Linked DNA regions of Homo sapiens. Each later gene encodes a partner of the first gene's protein in a complex. Each region holds a gene or a part of one and is shown in the gene's direction. Other genes may lie near its edges. The genes, in order: USP39, PRPF6, SNRPG and SNRPD3.

The links.
Region 2: USP39 (region 1) and PRPF6 share a complex: the UniProt entries of both Homo sapiens proteins name them as parts of the U4/U6-U5 tri-snRNP complex.
Region 3: USP39 (region 1) and SNRPG share a complex: the UniProt entries of both Homo sapiens proteins name them as parts of the U4/U6-U5 tri-snRNP complex.
Region 4: USP39 (region 1) and SNRPD3 share a complex: the UniProt entries of both Homo sapiens proteins name them as parts of the U4/U6-U5 tri-snRNP complex.

The regions. Positions count from the first base shown.
Region 1 is NC_000002.12:85,640,151-85,647,187, forward strand, and holds part of USP39 (ubiquitin carboxyl-terminal hydrolase 39), read left to right. Parts: intron 1-825; coding exon 826-968; intron 969-4,797; coding exon 4,798-4,933; intron 4,934-5,663; coding exon of another isoform or gene 5,664-5,732; exon of another isoform or gene 5,733-5,749; intron 5,750-7,037.
Region 2 is NC_000020.11:64,026,126-64,033,162, forward strand, and holds the end of PRPF6 (pre-mRNA-processing factor 6), read left to right. Parts: intron 1-856; coding exon 857-1,033; intron 1,034-1,477; coding exon 1,478-1,611; intron 1,612-2,352; coding exon 2,353-2,444; intron 2,445-3,251; coding exon 3,252-3,366; exon of another isoform or gene 3,367-3,560; intron 3,561-3,666; exon of another isoform or gene 3,667-4,683; intron 4,684-5,792; coding exon 5,793-5,919; intron 5,920-6,715; coding exon 6,716-6,868; 3' UTR 6,869-6,975; downstream 6,976-7,037. UniProt on the Homo sapiens protein: Involved in pre-mRNA splicing as component of the U4/U6-U5 tri-snRNP complex, one of the building blocks of the spliceosome.
Region 3 is NC_000002.12:70,280,833-70,283,748, reverse strand, and holds the end of SNRPG (small nuclear ribonucleoprotein G), read left to right. Parts: intron 1-2,064; coding exon 2,065-2,115; 3' UTR 2,116-2,387; downstream 2,388-2,916. UniProt on the Homo sapiens protein: Plays a role in pre-mRNA splicing as a core component of the spliceosomal U1, U2, U4 and U5 small nuclear ribonucleoproteins (snRNPs), the building blocks of the spliceosome.
Region 4 is NC_000022.11:24,565,995-24,573,031, forward strand, and holds part of SNRPD3 (small nuclear ribonucleoprotein Sm D3), read left to right. Parts: intron 1-1,989; coding exon 1,990-2,182; intron 2,183-5,921; coding exon 5,922-5,983; 3' UTR 5,984-7,037. UniProt on the Homo sapiens protein: Plays a role in pre-mRNA splicing as a core component of the spliceosomal U1, U2, U4 and U5 small nuclear ribonucleoproteins (snRNPs), the building blocks of the spliceosome.

The DNA.
Region 1 (7,037 bases):
TGTGAACCACTGCCCAACCACAGTGCCCCCTCTTGTACTTCTCATATATCCTGTTTTCAGCTTTCTGCCTGCCTCTGGGGTAGTATAGAGAAAGGAAGGTCATTTAGGAGAGGAGAAACTCCAAAAAGTGGGGAGACATACTTTTTTTTTTTTTTTGAGATGGAGTCTCACTCTGTTGCCTAGGCTGGAGTGCAGTGGTGTGATCTCAGCTCACTGCAACCTCCACCTCCCGGGTTCAAGCGATTCTTCTGCCTCAGCCTCCCGAGTAGCTGGGACTACAGGTACATGCCACCATGCCCAGCTAATGTTTGTATTTTTAGTAGAGATGCGGTTTCACCCTGTTGGCCAGGCTGGTCTCGATCTCCTGGCCTCAAGTGATCTGCCTGCCTCAGCCTCTCAAAGTGTTGGGATTACAGGCATGAGCCACCGTGCCTGGTTAGTTTTCTTTCTTTACATATATATATATATATTTTTTTTTTCTTTTTTTTTCTTTTTCCTTTTTAGTAGAGATGGGGTTTCACCATGTTGTCAAGGCTGGTCTCGAACTCCTGTGCTGAAATGATCCCCCTGCCTCGGCCTCCTACAGTGATAGGATTATAGGTGTGAGCCACCAGGCCCGGCCTTTTTTTTTTTTTTTTTTTTTAAATCAGCCTTAGCCAAACTGCACATCCTAAGCCTCATACATAATTTCTCGGACCAGGAGTCTTGTGAACTTAAGTGTGAGGCAAAATTATATTTTAAAAAATCGAAATGAAAAACTCATGCCCCTGCTCTAATACTACTGAACTTCAGCACTAATTTGAGAATTTTCTTTTCTTTCTCTAGGAATATAAGACTTACAAGGAGAACTTTCTGAAGCGCTTCCAGCTTACCAAGTTGCCTCCATATCTAATCTTTTGTATCAAGAGATTCACTAAGAACAACTTCTTTGTTGAGAAGAATCCAACTATTGTCAATTTCCCTATTACGTAAGTAACATCCTGCCTCACTTCTCTCACGGGGAGTGAACCTGGATTTCTTCTCTTGTATTTTTACCAGTATTAATTTTGGACTGTCTTAGTTGGGGATTACAAGGAACAGAGCCTACCTACAGTAGATAAGAGTTTTTATTGGAAGGATACACTTATTTCAGGGACCACAAAAGATTGATGTTTATTGGGATGCAATCCCTATTTTATCTTCTCTCCTGTTGCTAGCTGGAAATTATAGTCTTCCTGCGTAGAGAAGAAGAAATGATGCAAGTAGGATAAGACAGGTAGGATTCTGCCTGGTTTGGAAGATGTCCTGAGTAGTGAGGGTCTGCCCATCTATTTGCTGGCCATCACACCTTTTTGCACACTAGAGTTGTACTAGATGCTTTTAGTTTGCTTCCTTCCAACTCAGAAAACTTCTGCAAGATCCTTTTTGGGGGTAGACTGTTGGTTTTCAGTTCTCAAGAGACAAGGTTTTTCATACTTAAGAAGATGTTTGGCTGGGCGTGGTGGCTCACGCCTGTAATCCCAGCACTTTGGGAGGCCAAGGCAGCTGGATCGCTTGAGCTCAGGAGTTCAAGACCAGCCTAGGCAACATGGCAAAACCCCATCTCTACAAAAAAATACAAAAAATTAGCCAGATGTGGTGGTGCACACCTGCAGTCCTAGGTACTTGAGGGGCTGAGGCAGGAGGATGGCTAGAACCTTGGAGATTGAGGCTGCAGTGAGCTGAGATGGTGTCACTGCCCTCCAGCCTGGGTCTGGGTGACAGAGTGTGACTGTGCTAAAAAAAAAAAAAAAAAAAAAAGAAAGAAAGAAAGAAAATAGTGTCAGTTTTAAATTCCATGTAGTGTTTAAGAAAGTAGTATCTAAAATTAAGAGGCCTGAGTTTTAGGCTGTCTTAGTGGTGGGACCTCAGACCCATAGTTTGCGTGTTTTCTGGATATGTTCTCTCATAGATAAAATGAGAGGCTTGGAGTAGATGGGCCTGAGCCCTAGGGGTTTGTCCAGGTGTAACATCTTATTATAGTATTGCCAGGACTCTTAGAATCATGGAGGGTGAGGAGAGAGAACATTTGCAGTTGAGAATTACAGGGGAATTTCTTTTTCTCTTTTTCTACACTTTTCTCCACTAGCATCTTGTTTGTGACTAGAATTAAATGGGGGGACATGGAGGTTTGTTCTCTGCCTCCTTGAGTAGGATGACAGAGGTGCTTTCTTCGAAAGTCTGTGTGTCAAAGTTTTATTTCAGCACTAGCCTCTTGTGAATTGCCAGTCACCTGTCTGTTCCTGGTAGGTAGGGGCAGTCTGGATTCCAAGGGCAACTCCAGAGGGAGGAAGATTGTGTATCAATGGTACTTCCTGCTCAGTTGCCACAGAAATTTCCTTGCCCCATTGGTTTCTTTTATGGGCCTAGAGTAGGCCCAATATAAAAGTTTGTCCTTCAGAAAGCTTACTTCGGAGAAGTTGAGAAAAAGATTGTTTCTTAACTACGCAGTCTTTTAGAGAACATCAAATTGTGACTAATTCTGGAAACTTGCACTTTAATTATTTTATGTGCTGTAATTACTTCGAGTAATACAATTCTGGATCATTTCATTGTCCATACTTCTTGAAAAGGATCTTTTTCATACCTGTCTTCTCCTATGTTTTATTCATAACACATCCTGTTTTTGTCGGAGAGTTATCAGACTTATGGTGATTAGGCACCCTCTGCTTATTTGGAGATAGAGATTTTTGAGGGCAGGTTTAAAGTTTCACTTTCAGGTAATTAGCCATTCTCTTAACTGGTCTGTTGCTGTGGTTGGGAGATGAGTATAGTTTGCTCTTTTAGGCTGGGCGCAGTGGCTCACATCTGTAATGTCATCACTTTGGGAGGCCGAGGTGGGAGAATTGCTTGAGCTCAGGAGTTTGAGACCTGCCTGGACAACATAGCAAGACCTTGTCTCTACTAAAAAAAAAAAAAAAATGAATAGTTTGCTCCTTTTCCTATTTACTAACACAAAATGATTAAACGTAGTATTTCTCTTTTGCCGCATGGACAGTTTTGGTTCAGTCATGAAATCTTGAGTATAAAGACTTCTCCAAACCAGGCACGGTGGCTCACACCTGTAATCCCAGCCCTTTGGGAGGCCAAGGCGGGCGGATCACGAGGTCAGGAGATCGAGACCATCCTGGCTAACACGGTGAAACCCCGTCTCTACTAAAAATTCAAAAAATTAGCCAGGCATGGTGGTGGGCGCCTGTAGTCCCAGCTACTCGGGAGGCTGAGACAGGAGAATGGCGTGAACCCAGGAAGCAGAGCTTGCAGTGAATTGAGATAGCTAGCGCCATTGCACTCCAGTCTGGGCGACAGAGCGAGACTCTGTCTCAAAAAAAAAAAAGACTTCTTCACTGATACTCATTCAGACAAGTCTAGTCAGCTTTTGTTCAGGCTGAAGAGAAAATAAAATGAGAAGTCAGCCTTTAGTAGCAGGAAGGCAGGTTGGCTGACTAGAGCTCACATGGACTCAGGACTCATATCTCCTTTTTTTTTTTTTTTTGGAGATGGAGTCTCGCTCTGTTGCCCAGGCTGGAGTGCGGTGGCGTTATCTCGGCTCACTGCAACCTTCGCCTCCTGGGTTCAAGCAATTCTCCTGCCTCAGCCTCCGGAATAGGTGGGACTACAGGTGCACGCCGCCACGCCCAGCTAATTTTTTTTTTTGTACTTTAGTAAAGGCAGGGTTTCACGATGTTACCCAGGCTGGTTTCGAACTCCTGAGCTCAGGCAGTCTGCCCGCCTCGGCCTCCCAAAGTGTTGGGATTACAGGCATGAGCCACCGCACCTGGCTTCCATTTTCTTAACAGTGAATATTTATTGCAGTCTGACTGCATCATATATGGGACACTGTCAGTCTGTAGAAACAAATAGCTGTCACCAATACATAGAAAGCTACATATAATAATTACAACAAAGTTGTATGTTTGTTTATTACCACATGGTTTACATTTTAAACTCTGTAATTTTGAACAGTTAATATGTTCACAGTCTAACTTCAAAGGGAGATATATAACTGGACGTGACCACCATTAGCTGTTTCTTGTGAACTCTTCCAGTGATAACATGGTTTTGTTTCATGTAATGAGTGGTAGCACATCAGACAACTTTTATGATGCAATGTCTTTTTTTTTATTTTACCTTGTATTGTGTAAGTTTTTATAAATATTTGTAGACTCCAAAATGATATATTTTTCCTAAAATTATGTATTTAATCTTAATATTCTTGTTAACTGTCTATATATTTTCCTTTTTAACTATTTGAAAGTTCTTCTTCCTTTTGGGGGTTTTTTGAGACAGGGTCTCACTGTCGCCCAGGCTGGAGTGCAATAGTGTGGTCCTGGCTCACTTTAGCCGTAATCTCCTGGGCTCAAGTGATCCTCTCACCTCAGCCTCCTGAGTAGCTAGGACCACATGCATGTACCACCATGCCTGGCTAATTTTTTTTTTGTAGGGGTCTCACTACATTGCCCAGGCTGGCCTTGAACTCCTGGGCTCAAGCAGTCCTCCTACCTTGACCTCTCAAAGTGTTGGGATTATAGGTATGAGCCACTGCCTGTCATTCTTTTTTTTTTTTTTAAATCATATGGGAAGCTGTGTAACCCTGTCATTCATTTTGGCATATTTTGTGAATTCCAACGCACCTGGACCTTCTTGACTCTGCAAGCCTACCCAGAGAAAGGGTCCTAAAATAGGGCTGAACAATTTTGTGGTCCGTTTGTGTAGGACAGTTTCCTTAACCTCACAGCCTTTGTCTGATTATTCCGGCTTTATTTTAACCATTAACAGAAATGTGGATCTGAGAGAATACTTGTCTGAAGAAGTACAAGCAGTACACAAGAATACCACCTATGACCTCATTGCCAACATCGTGCATGACGGCAAGCCCTCCGAGGGCTCCTACCGGATCCACGTGCTTCATCATGTGAGTGGCTGCTGACCGTCTCATGGCACAGAGTGGCAAAAACAGGTGTTTCTTTGGCATCTCAGAGGGCAGCTCCCTTCAGTGTGTCCTTGCTTGGCCTTGGCTTTGGGACTCTGCAAGTAATAGTGCTGTCAGTAGTTAGTTTAAGGCAGTGGTTCTCAATTTTGGCTACACATTGGACTCACCTTGGGAGCTTTTTTTTTTTTTTTTTGAGACAGGGTCTCGCTCTGTAGCCCAGGCTGGAGTGCAGTGGCGTGATCTTGGCTCACTGCAACCTCCGCCTCCTGGGTTCAAGCAGTTCTCTGCCTCAGCCTCCCGAATAGCTGGGATTATGGGATTACAGGCGCCCATCACCACGCCCGGCTAATTTTTGTATTTTTAGTAGAGACGGGGTTTTACGATCTTGGCCAGGCCAGTCTTGAACTCCTGACCTTGTGATCCACCCACCTCGGCCTCCCAAAGTGTTGGGATTACAGGCGTGAGCCACCGCGCCAACCGGGAGCTTTTTAAAATCCCAATGCCTGGCACCACACCAGGCCGGTTATAATAGTAGTTTTCAGCTGGGGCAGAGGCCAGGGATGTTGGTATATATTTTACAACACGAAGGACAGCCCGTGTTACAAAGAATTATCTGACCCTAAACATCAGTCAGCATTAAGGTTAAAGGCTCTCTGTTAGATTGTCTGGAGGTGGATGTCTTTTCTGTTTGATGTCTTTTCTATTTTTCAAGTTAATTGAGATGGGGTTGTGCTATGATGCTCATGCTGGTCTCAAGCAATCCTCCCGCCTCAGCTTCTGAAACTGCTGGGATTACAGGTATGAGCCACCATGCCTGGCTGGCATTTGATGTTTTGAAGTTCCCTGAGAGACCCTGATATGCAGCCAAGGTTGAGAACCTCTGCCCTAGACTAGAGCCTTACCATCCAAAGTGGGATGCATCCTTGGACCAATAACATCAGCATCAGTCTTGTTAGAAATCAGCTTGTTAGAAATGCAGACTCTCAGTCCCCTCAAACCTACCACATCAGAACCTGGATTTTAACGTGACCCTCTGATTTGTAAGAAATTAAAGTTTGCGAAGCACTGGTTTAGAGGCTCCCTTTCATCTTAAAAATGTTGTGGATTTGTCTCAAGTTGAAAACAGATAAAACATGTACTTGAGATATATTTGATATCACATAGATTATTAGCATAAATTGTTCTCATTTGATTAGCCTCTTCTGGAACTGTGGGTTTAATCTTAACTAGCTTCTGTTTATCAAGTGCTTTATTGTGGTTAGGCAGTACGCCAGTTACTTAATGTACATTAATCTCATTTCTTTCATTAAAACACACCTCCAAGACAGATGTCAGTATCATCTTTTTTACAGAGGAGGAGACCTAGGCTCAGAGTTTCAGTAATTGACCTCAAGTCAGTAGAATTAGGATTTGACCCAGGTACTCTGCTTCAAAGCCCATGTTCTTAACTCGTCCTTGAAGCAGGAATGGGAACTTACTTATGTGATCCTGAGCTTTCCTTATGTTTCCTATATTCTCAACTATTGTAATATCCAGAGGATCTGGAATATTTATATTCTACAATAATGGTCTTTGGTATTTCTTAGAACTTTGGTTGGATAAGACAGGTGGGCGGCCAGAGGTGCCTCTGCCTTAATCTAGAAACATTTTTTCCTTGTTCATGGAAGCATGAAGTGAGATACGTTTTGCTGTATTTGTAGCACTGGTTTCTTAGGCCAAAGGAATCAGGTTAGTGTGATAGACAGTGTCCACCAAGGACACCTTTTCTTGATGACCTGTTGCTTTTTTTTTTTTTTTTTTTTTTAAGACAGAGTCTCACCCTATCACCCAGGATGGAATGCAGTGGCATGATCTTGGCTCACTGCAACCTCCACCTCCTGGGTTCAAGTGATTCTCCTGCCTCAGCCTCCCAAGTAGCTGGGACCTACAGGCACCTGCCACCAGGCCTGGCTAATTTTTGTATTTTTGGTAGAGACGGGGTTTTACTGTGTTGGCCAGGCTGGTCTCAAACTCCTTACCTCAAGTGATCTGCCCACCTCGGCCTCCCAAAATGCTGGGATTACAGGCGTAAGCCCCTGTGCCCAGC
Region 2 (7,037 bases), on another chromosome or scaffold:
GCTTGGGTGGTGATGGGAGTGAGATGACGGCAGGCAAACGAGACCACAGCACACTCATCTTTGTGATGTGACTAAAACATTCATGTGGCCGGGCGTGGTGGCCGGGCGCGGTGGCTCACGCCTGTAATCTCAGCACTTTGGGAGGCCAAGGCGGACAGATCACCTGAGGGTGGGAGTTTGAGACCAGCCTGACCAACATGGAGAAACCCCGTCTCTACTAAAAATACAAAATTAGCCGGGCGTGGTGGTGCGTGCCTGTAATCCCAGCTGCTCGGGAGGCTGAGGCAGGAGAATCGCTTGAACCCCGGGGGTGGAGGTTGCGGTGAGCTGAGATCGCGCCACTGCACTCCAGCCTGGGCAGCAAGAGGGAAACTGTCTCAGCAACAACAACAACAACAAACATGTTCATACGGCCGGGTGTGGTGGCTCACGCCTGTAATCCCAGCACTTTGGGAGGCCAAGGCAGGTAGATTGTGAGATCAGGAGTTCGACACCAGCCTGACCAACTCTGCTAAAAATACAAAATTAGCTGGGTGTGGTGGCTTGCACCTGTAGTTCCAGCTACTTGGGAGGCTGAGGCAGGAGAATGGTGTGAACCCAGCAGGTGGAGCTTGCAGTGAGCCGAGATCGTGCCACTGCACTCCAGCCTGGGTGACAGAGCGAGACTCTATCTCAAAAAAAAACAAAACAAAACAAAAACATATATTTATCCCCACCTTTTGTGTACACAAACAGGCTATGAAAAGCTTACAAAAGTACACACAGTACTGCAGGTAACAGTGTTGAGGATGAGTGTACCATGAAGCACGTACCCTGGAGCTGATGCCCTGCGTGACAGTGCATGTCTGCCCCACAGGTGTTCATGAAGTCTGTGAAGCTGGAGTGGGTGCAAGACAACATCAGGGCAGCCCAAGATCTGTGCGAGGAGGCCCTGCGGCACTATGAGGACTTCCCCAAGCTGTGGATGATGAAGGGGCAGATCGAGGAGCAGAAGGAGATGATGGAGAAGGCGCGGGAAGCCTATAACCAGGGGGTACGTCTCTGCCTGCACCCTGGGGCTGCAGCTGACCCGGCATTCACAAAACTGAGCCCCCTGGTGCAGGGTCATTGCCCTTCGCCTCTGAGGAGATGTGGAGGGCTGGGGGTTACAGCTGATGGAGCTGCAGACTCAGGACCCAAACCCTGGTCCCCTCGCTGAGTTCTGTGCTTTTCCTTATATGAAGCTGCACACACTGCTCAGAAGTGCAGAGTGTGGCACACCTGCAGTAAAGGCTGGTACGTACAGACCTGTGTGCACAGGTCCACAGCACCACCGCACACCTGTACACCCACAAATGCAGAGTGTGAGGGGTGTTTTTCCATGGACATGGCAGCCCTGAGGGACTCGGTCACCCACTGCAGATGAGAAGCTGGGCATGGCTGTGTCCCAGTTCTTCATAGACACCACCTGAGCTGCTCTCTTACTTGTTGGTTGCAGTTGAAGAAGTGTCCCCACTCCACACCCCTGTGGCTTTTGCTCTCTCGGCTGGAGGAGAAGATTGGGCAGCTTACTCGAGCACGGGCCATTTTGGAAAAGTCTCGTCTGAAGAACCCAAAGAACCCTGGGCTGTGGTGAGTCCTGGAGGGGGCAGCCTGGCCTCTGGGCACAGCTTCCCCATCAGGTGGGCCGCCGTCACCCAGCTGCTTGTGTGGAGTCACTCGTGCAGTGCTTCCAGGCTCAGGGGCTTGGGGGGCGGTAGGTGCTGGCCATGAAAAATCACGGTCCCTGCCTTAGGAGAGTTCGGCCTAGGTACTGTGACAGGCCTGTAGATGGTTTGATGCAGTTTAATTTGTGTTCTGATGGAGGGCGCCTGGGAGAGGGAGGGGTTAATGATGGCTGGGACGAGGGAAGGATGGACCCCGGAGAGCCAGCTCCACAGAGGAGGTGGCGTGGAGAGCCCTGGAGGTGGACAGGAGCCTGCTAGGTGCAGGCTCTGTTCATGGAGGTGCTGCGTCCAGCTCAGGGTGACGGGGCTGGAGCACTGTGCAGGCACTGCCGCAGACAGGCAGCTTCTGGGTGCCTTGTGCGGCCCTGGCTCTCCCAGTCTGGTCTTGTTTGTTCTGGATGCCTTCACCTGCATCTGGACAGCGTCAGGATCTGAGGTCTTGCCTTGGGGCGGTTGCCAGTGGGGCTGGCAGGGATGTGGGCCCCAGCGCCTTGTTTCTGTGGTGGATGAGCTCTGCTGTGGAGGGAATGGAGTTTTTGCTGCTGTGACTGGGTGGAGAGCCCTTTCAGACAAGGCTTCCCAGAAGCTACCAGAATATGTGCTGTTGGTAGACGGCTGTGGGACCTCCGGGGGCCTGTCTCCTCAGGTTGGAGTCCGTGCGGCTGGAGTACCGTGCGGGGCTGAAGAACATCGCAAATACACTCATGGCCAAGGCGCTGCAGGAGTGCCCCAACTCCGGTAAGGGGGTGCCCCGACTCCGGTAAGGGGGTGCCCTGACTCCGGTAAGGGGGTGCCTTGACTCCGGTAAGGGGGTGCTTCCTGGCTTCCCAGACTCCGCAGGGCTGGCACTTCCTGAGGGAGTGGGGGCTCAGGCTTCAGACGGACTTTATTAAAATGTGTAGTTTGTGTGAATCATTTCAGTCAAAAGTTTCAGCTATACTCGGCCGTTAAGACAACTTAATGAAATTCTTGGCCTCAAAATGGGAGAATTTGATTTCATTTCTGAAGTGTTATCATTTCTTTTTCTTTTAAAATTTAAAAGAAATTGGCCAGGTGTGGTGGCTCATGCCTGTAATCTCAGCACTTTGAGAGACTGAGGCGGGAGGATTGCTTGAGTCCAGGAGTCCATTGCTTGAGACCAGCCTGGCCAACATGGTGAAACCCCGTCTCTACTAAAATACAAAAATGAGCTGGGCATGGTGGCGGGCGCCTGTAATCCCAGCTACTCGGGAGGCTGAGGCAGGAGAATTGCTTGAGCCCGGGAGTGGGAGGTTGCAGTGAGCTGAGATTGCGCCATTGCACTCCACCCTGAATGACAGAGTGAGACTCTGCAGGGTGTCCAGTCTGTGCCCTCAGGGCTGCCATGGTTTTGGGTGGGCCAGAGTGCTCATCCTTTGTGGTTCTCCTTGCACAAGTTCTGCGAGCCGTGTGTGGGAGGCCCCTGTCGTGGTCTGAGGACGTCCCGGGTTAGAATCTGTAGGCTGGGCACCTTTCCGGAACCAGAGGCTGGAGTGCAAATCTTTGTTCTTTGTTTCTGAATTATAGGTATCCTGTGGTCTGAGGCCATCTTCCTCGAGGCAAGGCCCCAGAGGAGGACCAAGAGCGTGGATGCCCTGAAGAAGTGTGAGCATGACCCCCATGTGCTCCTGGCCGTGGCCAAGTGAGTGGGGCCCCCACAGGATTGCTGAACCTCGGGGTCCTAATGGGCTCTTTTTCCAGAGTCTGTCTGCCTCTTCCTGGTCATTGTAAAGATGCCCGGCAGCAGGGTGGGCTTCCCCGATCCTCGGCTGCCGTCGCTCCTGCTGTGGTCTGGGGCAGGCGCCTCTCCTGGCAGACACACCTGAGGGTGCCGTGGTCAGAGACTCACTGGGGACGCATGTGATTCACACTGGTGCGCTGGCCGCCGGGTCACAGACTCACTGGGGACGCGTGTGATTCACACTGGTGCGCTGGCCGCCAGGTCAGAGACTCACCGGGGACGCATGTGATTCACACTGGTGCTCTGGTCGCCGGGTCAGAGACTCACTGGGGACGCATGTGATTCACACTGGTGCGCTGGCCGCCGGGTCAGAGACTCACTGGGGACACATGTGATTCACACTGGTGTGCTGGCCGCCGGGTCAGAGACTCACTGGGGACGCGTGTGATTCACACTGGTGCGCTGGCCGCTGGGTCAGAGACTCACTGGGGACGTGACTCTGGAACCTTGCAGGCAGCAGCGGGTAGCCATGGGGCAGAGCATGCAGACTCTAGGCACATGTGGGCAAAGACCCGCCAGGTGTGGGGCACAGCAGGGAGCTCAGGGCCATCCCCGACCCCCAGGGTCCCTGTTTCCTTCTAGAAAGAGGATGACAGTCTGGGAAGGAGCTGGGCCTGAGTGTGGGTCAGGAGGCTGGGAAGTGACCATGTGGGGTGAAGGGAGTTCTTGGAAGAACCCTGGGTTCCTGAGGCTGCAGCTCAGGACGTGGGCTCACCTGGCAGAGGTGGCGTGTCTGGCCCCAGGAGCTCTCCTGTGTCCGGCTTCCCCTCCACCTGCCCCGCCATGGGTCATGCAGAGACAACAGCCTTCCTAGTGCTGGCTTTTGATTCTCTCCATCCCTTCTCCCCAGCACTGGGTGGCAGTGGTGCTTGGTCTCCAGAGGTCTGGGTGCCGCCCCCACAGGCTTGCCTGTAGGGGCACCTCCTCTCCCCTGCCCGCAGGCCCCCGACAGATGAGAGAGGCTCCCCACAGGGAGGCTTGTGTCTGCCTGGTGCTACCTTGGTCCTGCCCTGTGCGTTCACCTCCCAGAGTGACTTCTGGGTGACACTCTGATAGTGCAGCCATAAAACCTTATAAAAGGCTTTGCTAAAGTAAATAAGTCACTCCTTGCTATTCCCAAGCCAGTGTTTTGTGTGTCTGCTATCTGGGTTTGTGCTCTTTAAATCACAGTTTATCTAACACCGGGCAATTAAGAATACCACAAGGCTTAAAAAACAATCAGGTTATCAGAGTGTGAAATTATTCCGTTTGGCAACTGAGACGAACCCGAACAGCTGCCCGGAGTGGAGGCTCCTCGTGTTGTCTCTTGACTACGGTGCCTCTGGCTCCAGGGGGAGGTGACCCTGAGGAGAGGGTGGCAGCAACGCAGAGTCCCGGGCCTGCCAGCATGCTCAGCAGCCAGCGCCCGCCATCCCTTCTCCAGCAGCGGGTGGGGGTGCCATGCACACCCTTACCTGGCCTCTCATAGCATGGACCTCTTCGGGCCCGGTTTTTCAGGTGTGCATGTGTCTGGCAGGCACGGCGGTGTGAATCCAGTGGCCTGAGGGCTGTGGGCTGCAGGCCCAGGCCCTTGTGCTGCCTGGAGCCCATCTTCTCAGTGTTCACTGGGGTTGCTGCTGGAGGCCGGGTGGGGCAGGATGATCCAGCAGGTGTCTCAGTGAGGAGCTGAAACTGTATAACTTTCCCTCATCAAAGTTGCAGTTTAATTTTGTGTCAGGTTTAGTTTCATCTCCTTGTATCTGACCCTAATTTTACGGAGTTGGAAGATCTTTCCCTGCGTGTGAATTTTTTAAGAAACAGTTTGGGACAGGTGCGGTGGCTCATGCCTATAATCCCAGCACTGGGAGGCTGAGGCAGGTGGATCATGAGGTCAGGAGTTTGAGACCACCCTGACCAACACAGTGAAACCCCATCTCTACTAAAAATACAAAAATTAGCCGGGTGTGGTGGCGCATGCCTGTAATCCCAGCTACTCAGGAGGCTGAGGCAGGAGAATCGCTTGAACCTGGGAGGCAGAGCTTGCAGTGAGTCGAGATCGCGCCACTGCACTCCAGCCTGGGCGACAGAGCGAGACTCCTTCTCAAAAAAAAAAAAAAAAAAACAACAAAAAAAAACCAATTTGGTTAGACCCGTGAAGGGCAGCTTCAAGTTAATGATCTGGGGTAATTATTTCTGGATCAGCCGAGGCCCTGATCCTCAGGCCTTCTTGAGGGGAGCACCAGGGCTGCGGGTCAGGGATGAAGCTGATGGCCCTGAAGCCGTTCCCCTGCCCCAGAATACCGTCCTGCAGCCACTCACTCTGGGTTCACGTCCTTCTGCTGGAACAGGCTGTTTTGGAGTCAGCGGAAGATCACCAAGGCCAGGGAGTGGTTCCACCGCACTGTGAAGATTGACTCGGACCTGGGGGATGCCTGGGCCTTCTTCTACAAGTTTGAGCTGCAGCATGGCACTGAGGTGAGGCCCCTCGACAGACCGCCGCTCAGTGCCTTCTGGGACTGTGGCGGGGAGTTCCGCCAGCCCTGGGGGCTCTAGGAGGTGGCCACGGCCAGCGTGACTCTGCCCGGGGTCGGGAGGATGGACCGGGTGTGTGGGGCACAGAATCCTCGACACCTCCCCACAAGGCAGTCTCTGCCTCCACATCCGTTTTCTGGTTATAGCCTCACAGCTCCACACCCTGGAATTGAGGCACCCTGTCCGTTAGGGTGGCCTGTCTGCTGGAGTATTTTAACGAGTTATTTGCTGGCTGGAGCCTGGGCTCACTTTAGGAATGGGAATGGAGTTGGCCTTTTTCTTGGGCCTGAGCCTGAGTGTGGCTTTCTAGGACAGCCTGGGCAGCAGCCCCTCTGCTCCCACCCGCCCCGCTAGAGCCAAGCGTTGTCTGAGCTGTGCTGGAGGCAGTCAGGCTGTCCTGGTCCTCCCTGGAAAGTGTTGCCAGCCCACGTGAACCCTAACTCCTTGTTTGGAGAAGGCAGACGTGAGCACTTGTGTGAGGCACAGACATGGGGAGCCTGGCTCAGTTCCTCATCTGTGGGCTGAGGCTGGTGGGGTCCATGCTCCTCAGGAGGTGGGGCTCCTTTGAGGAACACACCTGAAAGAGCCTTGCCTTCCGGTGCAGGGCCTGTGCCCTCTGGCCCGCCAGTTGGGGTTGGTGCTGCCAGGGCCAGGTCTGCAGGGGCCAGGCGAGAAGCAGGCGAGGTCCGGGGAGTAGCGTGGGAGGACCCCTGCCTGACGTGCCCTGTGGTCCCCCCAGGAGCAGCAGGAGGAGGTGAGGAAGCGCTGTGAGAGTGCAGAGCCTCGGCATGGGGAGCTGTGGTGCGCCGTGTCCAAGGACATCGCCAACTGGCAGAAGAAGATCGGGGACATCCTTAGGCTGGTGGCCGGCCGCATCAAGAACACCTTCTGATTGAGCGGTTGCCATGGCCGGTCTCCGTGGGGCAGGGTTGGGCCGCATGTGGAAGGGCTCTGAGCTGTGTCCTCCTTCATTAAAAGTTTTTATGTCTCGTGTCAGAACAGGCAGCCTGCTGGTTTTCTCTGGGGCCCTTCTCTGGCTCCTGCTTCTGCTGCCCCAGTCT
Region 3 (2,916 bases), about 15 Mb from region 1:
CTTATCATACTCATTGCTGATAATTGGCTGCCAGGTTCCAAGACACTTATCCTACCAATTGTGTTCCCTTCTATTCTGTCAGCTGCAGTAATCACATGTGAGTTCTTTTATTCATATTTACCAGGTTATTGAGCCCTCTGTGTGCCTGCTACTATTTTAGGCACTGGGGTTTTGCACCTAAGTCCCTGCCCTCATAAAATTTACATTTGTATGGAGAACACAATAAATCATAGCGTATGTGTAAATAAAACAAGCATGATACTGTGAGAAAAGAATAAGTTACAACTACTTTTACTCTAGCTGCCTATAAGCATAGCTCCACTTTGAATCTTTTTGGAATGCCTCCATTTCTAATAAACACCTCAAATTATTACATTACCTTTCTCTCCCCTACATTACCTATTCTTTCCCTCCCGTACCCCTCCATTCACCTATCCAATTCTACTTGACTGATGGGTGATCTATCGATTATGATGATCTCCAGTCTATTAGGGACTTACTGTTTTTAGTCCCCTAGCCTTCCAGTTTCGCTTATTTTTCTACCCCTCTTGAATTCATTTACCAGCTGATTCATCTATACTCTGATAAGTTTGTCTGTTGGTTTGTTTTGGTTTTGGTTTGTTGTTTTTTTTTTTTTTTTTTTTTTTTTTTTGACAAAAGACAGTTTCGCTCGTTGCCCAGGCTGGAGTGCAGTGGCGCTATCTTGGCTTACCGCAACCTCCGCCTCCCGGGTTCAAGTGATTTCTCCTGCCTCAGCCTCCTGAGTAGCTGGGATTACAGGCATGTGCCACCACACCCGGCTAATTTTTTATTTTTAGTAGAGATGGGGGTTTCTCCATGTTGGCCAGGATGGTCTCGAACTCCCAACCTCAGGTGATCCACCCGCCTTGGCCTCCCAAAGTGCTGGGATTATAGGCGTGAGCCACCACACCCCCGATAAATATTCTTATCTTCATTTATGGCTTATCTACTAGGTCAAGCACTGTTCTCCTAGGGCCTTTTTTTTATAACTTCTCTTTCTGCCTCTAGGTTCTGTCCTATTCAAACTTCGGCGTATTTATATAATATCTTGTTGCAGGGACACTTATGGTTGTCATTCCCCCAAGTGAAACTCTCACTGGCTCATTGTTAGTTTCTGATGTCCTCCAAACACTAAGATTGGCATTTGAAGCTTTCCAAGATTGAATGCCAACTATCTTTGTTTCCTGATTCTCTTCGTGAACTTTTTACTGCATTCAAATTAGATTACTTCCTTATCCTCTCATACTTTGTCTTCATCTTAGTTCTGTCTAGAATTTCCTACAATCTCCTTTTCAAAATTCTGCCCAATTTCCAAGACCCAGGTAAAATGTCATTTTCATAAAGCATGCCTTTCACAATTTCCCATCCTGGTTTCTTCCCTAAATGATCTCATACCTCCAAACTGTACCTAACATACTCTACTGTACATATTTTACTCATTAATTTTTGGATCCCATAGAGTCAGGGATGGGCATTTAAATTTGAGTCCTGCATTTTAGAAGGTGAAATTAGGGCCAGGCGTAGTAGCTCACGCCTGTAATCCCAGCACTTTGTGAGGCTGAGGCAAGCAGATTACTTGAGGTCAGGAGTTTGACACCAGCCTGGCCAACATGGTGAAACCCCGTCTCTACCAAAAATATAAAAATTAGCTGGGCGTGGTCAGGGCTCCTGTAATCCTAGCTACTTGGGAGGCTGAAGCAGGATTGCTTGAACCTGGGTGGCAGAGGCTGCAGTGAGCCGAGATTGCGCCACTACACTCTAGCCTGGGCAACAGAGTGAGACTGTCTCAAAAAAAAAGGTGAAATTAGTCATTGGAGACTTGGCATTAGAATCTCATAAAGCAAATTGTTAGCCTTAAATCCAAAAGATGTCTGTCGTATAAAGGGCTTAGAGTTGTTTGGTGTCCCTGTGGCTTGAACAAAGCTTTGCAAACCGACATGTAATATTAAAAAACCATTAATGATTTGGTGAAAATTCTTAAATCATCATAGTTATGTCTGTTACCTGAGTTGTTCTTTTCAAATTTATTTTTCTCTTTCTTAGGTAATACGAGGAAATAGTATCATCATGTTAGAAGCCTTGGAACGAGTATAAATAATGGCTGTTCAGCAGAGAAACCCATGTCCTCTCTCCATAGGGCCTGTTTTACTATGATGTAAAAATTAGGTCATGTACATTTTCATATTAGACTTTTTGTTAAATAAACTTTTGTAATAGTCAAAAATGCTTTCTCAGATGTTCTGAATATAGAATATCAGCTCTCATTCCAGTTTTTTCTAACATGAATTTTCCTGGTTGACATTGATTTCAAAGGGTTTTATGCATTAAAGTGAAAGAATCTTATTAAATGTGAAACATGGCAAGGATTCCTTCTGTCCATCATCTTTCAACACTGAACAGATAAAGAAGTTACAAACATGAGTGAGTTTCTTCTAAAACACTAATTTTCAAAACTTGTAAGAATAGTAACTTTGATCTAGCCTGACTTTCCCAAGTACATCTACATTCCAAATATAGTACAACAGAAGCAAAAGACAAGAAGTAATGATGTAGTTGTTTATTTTGAATATAATCATGAAGTGGGGAAAAATTTTAATACAAGAGTAGAAAGAGGATTCCAGAGAAAAACATTCCAGTGTATCATGGTTCTTTGTGAGTGAGTAGAGAGGGGTAGTGAGGATGCTGTCCACAATGTATTCATCTAGTTAATGAATTGTATGGCCCACAAGCTCAAACGAGAGATACATTACAGATGGTTGTATTATAAACCTAATCTTAAGAAACCTTACCAAGCAAATGCTTAAAGACTGATTTTTTTGTGATCTGATAAAAAGCCTGCAAATCGTGAATCACTTTTAAACTGTACAGAATGGACTACACACCAGTATGGTAAAG
Region 4 (7,037 bases), on another chromosome or scaffold:
ATCCAGTTTCTGTCTTGGGTAGTCTGACCATAAACCTGGCGTTCATTTGTGGCACTAGAGGTTATGGTATTCTTCAGGGGAAGAAAAGGATTGGTAAGGACTTGGGAACTGGATGAAAATTTAATAACAGGCTGGGAGTGAGGAGCCTGGAGCAGAAGGTTTATGAGAAACTGGAGCCCTGTTGCCCCTGAAGGTAGAACAGGGATAGTGGGTAGAAGCTCTAGAAACCATTCCTCTAGAAACTGCTCATATACAACAGGGGCGGCCCCAGAGCATAGTTTTGTTTGTTTTATTTTTGAGAGGATCTTGCTCTGTGGCCCAGGCTAGGGTGCAGTGGCTCCATCACAGCTCCCTGCAGCCTCGACCTCCCAGAACCAAGTGATCCTTTCACCTCAGCTTCCCGAGTAGCTGGACTACAGGCACATGCCACCACACCCAGCTAATTTTTGTAGAGATGAGGTCTCACTGTGTTGCCCAGGCTGGTCTCAAACTCCTGGGCTCAAGTGATCCTCCCACCTTGACCTCCCAAAGTGTTGATATTACAGACATGAGCCACCACACCTGGCCCATAGTTGTTCTTTTCTGAGTGTTCAAGCAGAGGCTGGGTGGCCAGTTAGCACTTGAGGAAAAGAATGAATGAGTATAAGATGGCAGCTAGCCAGACAGAAATCTGCAGAGACAGCACATCTTTCTACAATAAGGGCTGACCCATTCTAAATAAATTATAGTTCTCTCTCTTCAGAAGGTTCATACAATAAGCTGCTTTTTCTGTAAATGTGGTGCTTGTTGAGGTTGATGCTGGCAGATTGGTATCACCCTCCCATGCCAAGCTGGTCTCACCTTCAGGCTCCCCATTTGTCCATCCTGCAGTCTATCCTTGTTGCCACATTTATCTTTCCTGAGTGCTGCCTTAACCCTATTGATCTTTCCTCTATCGACAAACTTGACTGACTCCTTTATCTGAAGTAACGACCCCGTCCAGTGTCATTATTCGACTGCTCTGGTCCTCACATCCTGTAGGCTCCTGCCCAAGTGCCTGCTCTTTTCCTTGTGCAAGCTCTTGCCTCATAACCCTCCAGTAATTTCAGGCCCTTTTTACAGGCCTTGTGGTACCACCTCCATTTCTCAGTCCCTAGTCACTCAACCTAGAGGGTTCTGTCTCACCTTCTAGAGTATGCACTCTGGAGGGTCAGAACCACATCTGGTATATACTTGTGACCTTCATGGTGCCTTTGAAATCTGAGTGCCAGGCAGTGCAGGGGAAGACAGTTTGGACCAGCAGTTTGAAGCTGTTTTCGTTAGGGTTTAGCACCTTCAAGAGCTCTTCACATCTTTGCTCAGCAGGCAGTGCAGCACAGCCAGGGCTCTGAAGCTAGGCCAGCTGGTTCGAATCTGGAGTTCCCTGCATTCCAGCTGTTTGACCTGGGATAACTGCTTTGGTTTTTTTAACATGTAAAGATGGGAGCACTCGGCTGGGCGCAGTGGCTCACACCTGTAATCCCAACACTTTGGGAGGCTGAAGCGGGCAGATCACCTGAGGTCAGGAGTTCGAGACCAGCCTGTCCAACCTGGTGAAACCCCACCTCTACTAAAAATACAAAATTAGCCGGGCATGGTGGCGCATGCCTGTAATCCCAGCTACTCAGGAGGCTGAGGCAGGAGAATCGCTTGAACCCGGGAGGCAGAGGTCACGGTTAGCCGAGATTGCACCATTGCACTTCAGCCTGGGCAACAAGAGTGAAACTCCATCTCAAAAAAAAAAGGGGGGGAGCACTCATACCCACGCTGAAGGTGTTGTGAGGACTGTTTAGGTAAAGTGCTCAGTGCAGTCCCTGGTGTACACAGTTAGTACCGATGATTGCTGGGTAATTCACCAGCTTTGTCACAATGTCAGTCTGCTTTTCTGGACTTCCCCCTCCCACCAGTCAAGGCCCTCCCCACCGCTGGTGCTGTTGACCGTTAACTTATTAGCTGGTGATTTCCTTCCAGATGTCCAACATCACAGTCACATACAGAGATGGCCGAGTGGCACAGCTGGAGCAGGTATACATCCGTGGCAGCAAAATCCGCTTTCTGATTTTGCCTGACATGCTGAAGAACGCACCCATGTTAAAGAGCATGAAAAATAAAAACCAAGGCTCAGGGGCTGGCCGAGGAAAAGCTGCTATTCTCAAGGCCCAAGGTAGGTGCTTTTCATGCACAGGTTTTAAAATATAGGTTTGTCTTGTGTCTTGTAGAAAGGGGCCCTATTACTGCCTGGAGACAGAGAGGGTTTGACCTCTGCTCTCTCCACACCCACCACCCACTGCCACCCCTTCCCCTTGCAGCGTGGAGTGATCCTGTGAGGCCATTATTTTATTTTTTTGAGACAGAGTCTCGCTTTGTCACCCAGGCTGGAGTGCGATGGTGTGATCTCAGCTCACTGCAACCTCTGCCTCCCAGGTTCAAGCAATTCTCCTGCCTCAGCCTTTCAAGTAGCTGAGATTACAGTGCGCACTGCCCTGCCTAGCTAATTTTTTTATTTTTAATTTATTTTTATTTTTATTTTATTTTTAATTTTTTTTAATTTTTTTATTTTTTTGAGATGGAGTCTCGCTCTGTCGCCCAGGCTGGAGTGCAGTGGCGTGATCTCGGCTCACTGCAACCTCCGCCTCCCGGGTTCAAGCAGTTCTCTGCCTCAGACTCCTAAGTAGCTGGGATTACAGGCACCCGCCACTGCGCCGGGCTACTTTTTGTATTTTTAGTAGAAACGGGGTTTCACCACCTTGGCTAGGCTGGTCTTGAACTCATGACCTTGTGATCCACCTGCCTCAGCCTCCCAAAGTGCTGGGATTACAGGCGTGAGCCACTGCGCCCGGCTTATTTTTATTTTATTTATTTATTTTTGTATTTTTAGTAGAGATGGGATTTCACCATGTTGGTCAGGCTGGTCTTGAAGTCCTGACCTCACATGATCCACCTGCCTCGGCCCCCTGAAATGCTGGGATTACCAGTGTGAGCCACCGCACCTGGAGAGGCCCATCTTTTCTAGAAGTTCTGTGTGAGAGGTGTGGGATCGCTTGCCCTTGTCTAGTTTGCCGAGCAGACACAGCCCGGAGCAGATGAGCTGACTCGAGTGTGAGGGCAGCATTTCCTAGCGAGACTGGGTCTTATGGATGGACACCAGCATGTACTTAGGGAGGTCTGATAGTGGAGCTCCGTTTTCAGAAATAAAGCCACCTTTTAGTACATTCCAAAAGTGGGACTGTCCTTTTCGCAGTCCCCTAGTCTGGTCTTGCTTCTTGGTTAGCCTAATTTGGTTTTATATTTAGGTTCATGAAAGTTCTGTCATGTTGATTAGACAACAAAGTAATTGTGGCCCTTGGAAACTGTCTTAGTGTTGGTAAAAAAGGTTTGCAGCCAAGGAAGGCACTGGATTCTTCATTGGTATCTTTAGCTGCTGTACATGTTTTATATGTGTGTGAGGAAAAAAGTCAAACTGTGTTTTTCCTCTGCTCTCACAACACAACAATCAACAAAGACTTCTGTGACCAAGCAAGCAGTCAGTTCTGCAGTAGACACCAGCTGGGTGTCCTTCAGTTCTGACACTATCTACCTGGAGATAGCCTGAAAAACCACAGGTTGAGGGCTCGGTCCCACAAGACAGCCCCTGCACCCCCCACTATTATTCATAAGCACAGGCCTCCAGAACATCTGAATGGCTTCAAGCCAGGGTTCTCACGTCTCACTCCTTGGGTTCGATTAATTTGCTGGAGTAGCTCACACAACTCGGGAATCACATACTTAAATTTACTGGTTTATAACAGGATATTTTATAGGCTACAAATAAACAGCCACATGAAGAGATGCATAGGGTGAGATCTGGAAGGGTCGCAAGCACAAGAGCTTCTAGCCCCATGGAGTTTCCTCCCGGCACATGGATGAGTTCTTGTTCACCTTCCTGTCAGGCTGCGCATGATCAGCTGTCCCGAAGCTCCCCTAACCCTGCCCTCTTGGGCCTTTTATGGAGACTTTATTGGATAGTCATGATTAAAGGATGGACAACCATGTGGAAATGCCATTAGACAAAATGGGTGTGATCTAACACTAATAGACGGGGTTGGGAAACCCCGCGAGGCCTGTCCAGATTCTTTTTGGCCTCTCTCTGCAGCATTTGTTCCTCCAGGGTATAGGGCAGGACCTTTCTCTGGAGTGAGGTCTTATGACCCACAATCAGATTAGGGTCCTGCCTTGGGCAGGTGAAAGGAGGGCAGGAGAAGTTTCAAGAGAGAGATTCTGTCTCCTGAGTCCTGCTTCTGAGGCCTAAAGTGCCCCAATGTTATAACAAAAGACTATAACAAGGACTATAGGAGTTACGAGCTGGGAACCATAGATGAAAGCTCAAGTTTAAAGATGTAATAGTGTGAGGGGCCGGGCGCAGTGGCCCATGCCTGTAATCCTAGCACTTTGGGAGGCCGAGGTGGGCAGATCACGAGGTCAGGAGTTCGAGACCAGCCTGGCCAACACAGTGAAACCCCGTCTCTACTAAAAATACAAAAATTAGCTGGGCATGGTGGCAGGTCCCTGTAGTCCCAGCTACTCGGGAGGCTGAGGCAGGAGAATCGCTTGAACCCAGGAGGTGGAGGTTGCAGTGAGCCGAAATCGTGCCACTGCACTCCAGCCTAGGTGACAGAGCTAGACTCCATCTCAAAAAAAAAGAATATTTTATTTGTTCTTCAAAGCCTGTCTTCTCCTAGAACCCCTGGGTTACAGAGGAGAACAGCAGTCTTATCATGCTATTTATATGGAGTGTGTTTTCTTTTTGCTACTATGAAATAATTCTTTTTTTTTTTTTTTTTTTTTGGAGACTGAGTCTCCATCACCCAGGCTGCAGTGCGGTGGCTTGATCTCAGCTCACTGCCACCTCCTCCAACTCCCAGGTTCAAGTGATTCTCTTGCCTCAGCCTCCCAAGTAACTGGGATTACAGGCGCATACCACCACGTGCAGCTAATTTTTGTGTGTTCAGTAGAGAAGGGGTTTTGCCATGTTGGCCAGTCTGGTCTCAAACTTATGACCTCAAGTGATCTGCCTGCCTTGGACTCGCAAAGCCCTGGGGTTACAGACATGAGCCACTGCACCCAGCCTGAAATAATTATTTTCTCAGAAAAAAATACAAAAGATAATATAACCCTTCTCCCAGATCTAACACATGTTAACACTTAACTATATTTGTTTCAGAATTGAAAAAATTAATTCAGTGCATCTATAATGTTTTTCAGCTCACCCAAGGCCAGCCCCAAGGATTTGTCTTTTCTGTAGCTCTCAGACCACCTTCTTTGCCCTCAGCATGCTGCCTCCCAGCCTCTTGTAGAGAGCAGTGTGGGACTGGAAGGCAAGAGTGTGCTGCTAGCTCCTGCTTTGATGCCAGTCCCCAGCCCCTGCCCCTCCGTCTCCATCCCCCCTGTTAAATGCAGTGGCTGTCAGCTGGACGTGTTGGCTTATGCTTGTAATCCTGACACTTTGGGAGGCCGAGGTGGGTGGATCACCTGAGGTCAGGAGTTTAAGACCAGCCTGGCCAACATGGTGAAACCCTGTCTCTACTAAAAATACAGGAAATTAGCCGGGCGTTGTGGTTCACGGCTGTAGTCCCAGCTACTCAAGTAGGAGGCTGAGACATGAGAATCGCCTAATCCCAGGAGGTGGAGATTGCAGTGAGCCGAGATCATGCCACTGCACTCCAGCCTGGGTGACAGAGTGGGACTCCGTCTCAAAAAATAAAAAAAAAAAAAGGCGGGAGGTGGAAATGCAATGGCCAGGGTGGTGTTGGACCAGGTAACCCTTCAGAACCCTTCTAACTGGTGTCCTAGGGCCCTGGCTACTCTGTGCTATGAGCATTCACCGACCACACTGACCTGGCCTCATATTTTCTCTTCCCTTTCAGTGGCCGCAAGAGGAAGAGGACGTGGAATGGGACGTGGAAACATCTTTCAAAAGCGAAGATAATTTTCTAAGTTGAACAGAACTTTGTCCTTTTTTCTTTCAGGTTATCTGAGTTCATTGGAGTGGGTGCTTGTGCATATATGCTAGGTATCTTTTGCCATCTTTCTCTTTAGATCAGGGGAAATGTTTAAGCTAAATAAATCTGGGGGGTTTTTTGTTCTGTTTTGTTTTGTTTTCTTTGAGAAAATAAGGACTTTGTGTTCATTTGAAGTTTGCTTTGGCTAAATTTTGACACCCTGGGGGATGTCCTGGGAGAATGCCAGTACTTTGAAATAGCACAGCTATTGATGAGATTTTAAGCTGCTGTTCCTGGCCAGTTGCAGGTTAAGCCCCAGAAAAGTTCACCTTGGAGAAGCTCCGAGAACACACAGATTGTGTCTCATTCATCTTCAGACACAGGCACATAGTGTGGCACTTTGTTCAGTTAACATTTGTGGAGCTGTCATCAGCTCAGCTTTAACAACACAGGTGACTCTTTCCCTTGATAAAGTCATAGGTAATTCAGGGGCTGGGTGCGGCGGCTCACGCATGTAATCCCAGCACTTTGGGAGGCCAAGGCGGGCGGATCACGAGGTCAGGAGTTCGAGACCAGCCTGGCCAATATGGTGAAACCTCGTGTGTACTAAAAATAAAAAAATTAGCCGGGTGCGGTGGCATGTACCTGTAGTCCCAGCTACTCGGGAGGCTGAGGCAGAAGATTCGCTTGAACCCAGGAGGTGGACATTGCAGTGAGCAGAGATCATGCCACTGTACTCCAGCTTGGGTGACAGAGCGAGACTGCACCTCAAAAAAAAAAAAGTAATTCAGGGGATCCTAGTGGCCAGCTTCCTTGGCTCGTATACTGGCTACAACAAGTAGTTTTGTGGTGATTTGTGGAAACAGATTCTTGGGAGCATATCAGAGCATCTCAGCATTGATTGGCACATCCATAGTTGTTAATGTAGGAAGGGTGACCAGCAGCTCAGCACAGTGGCTTGCTTCCAGCACTCTGGGAGGCTGAGGTAGAGGATTGTTTGAGAGGAGTTCAAAACCAGCCCGCGAGACATAGTGAGACCCT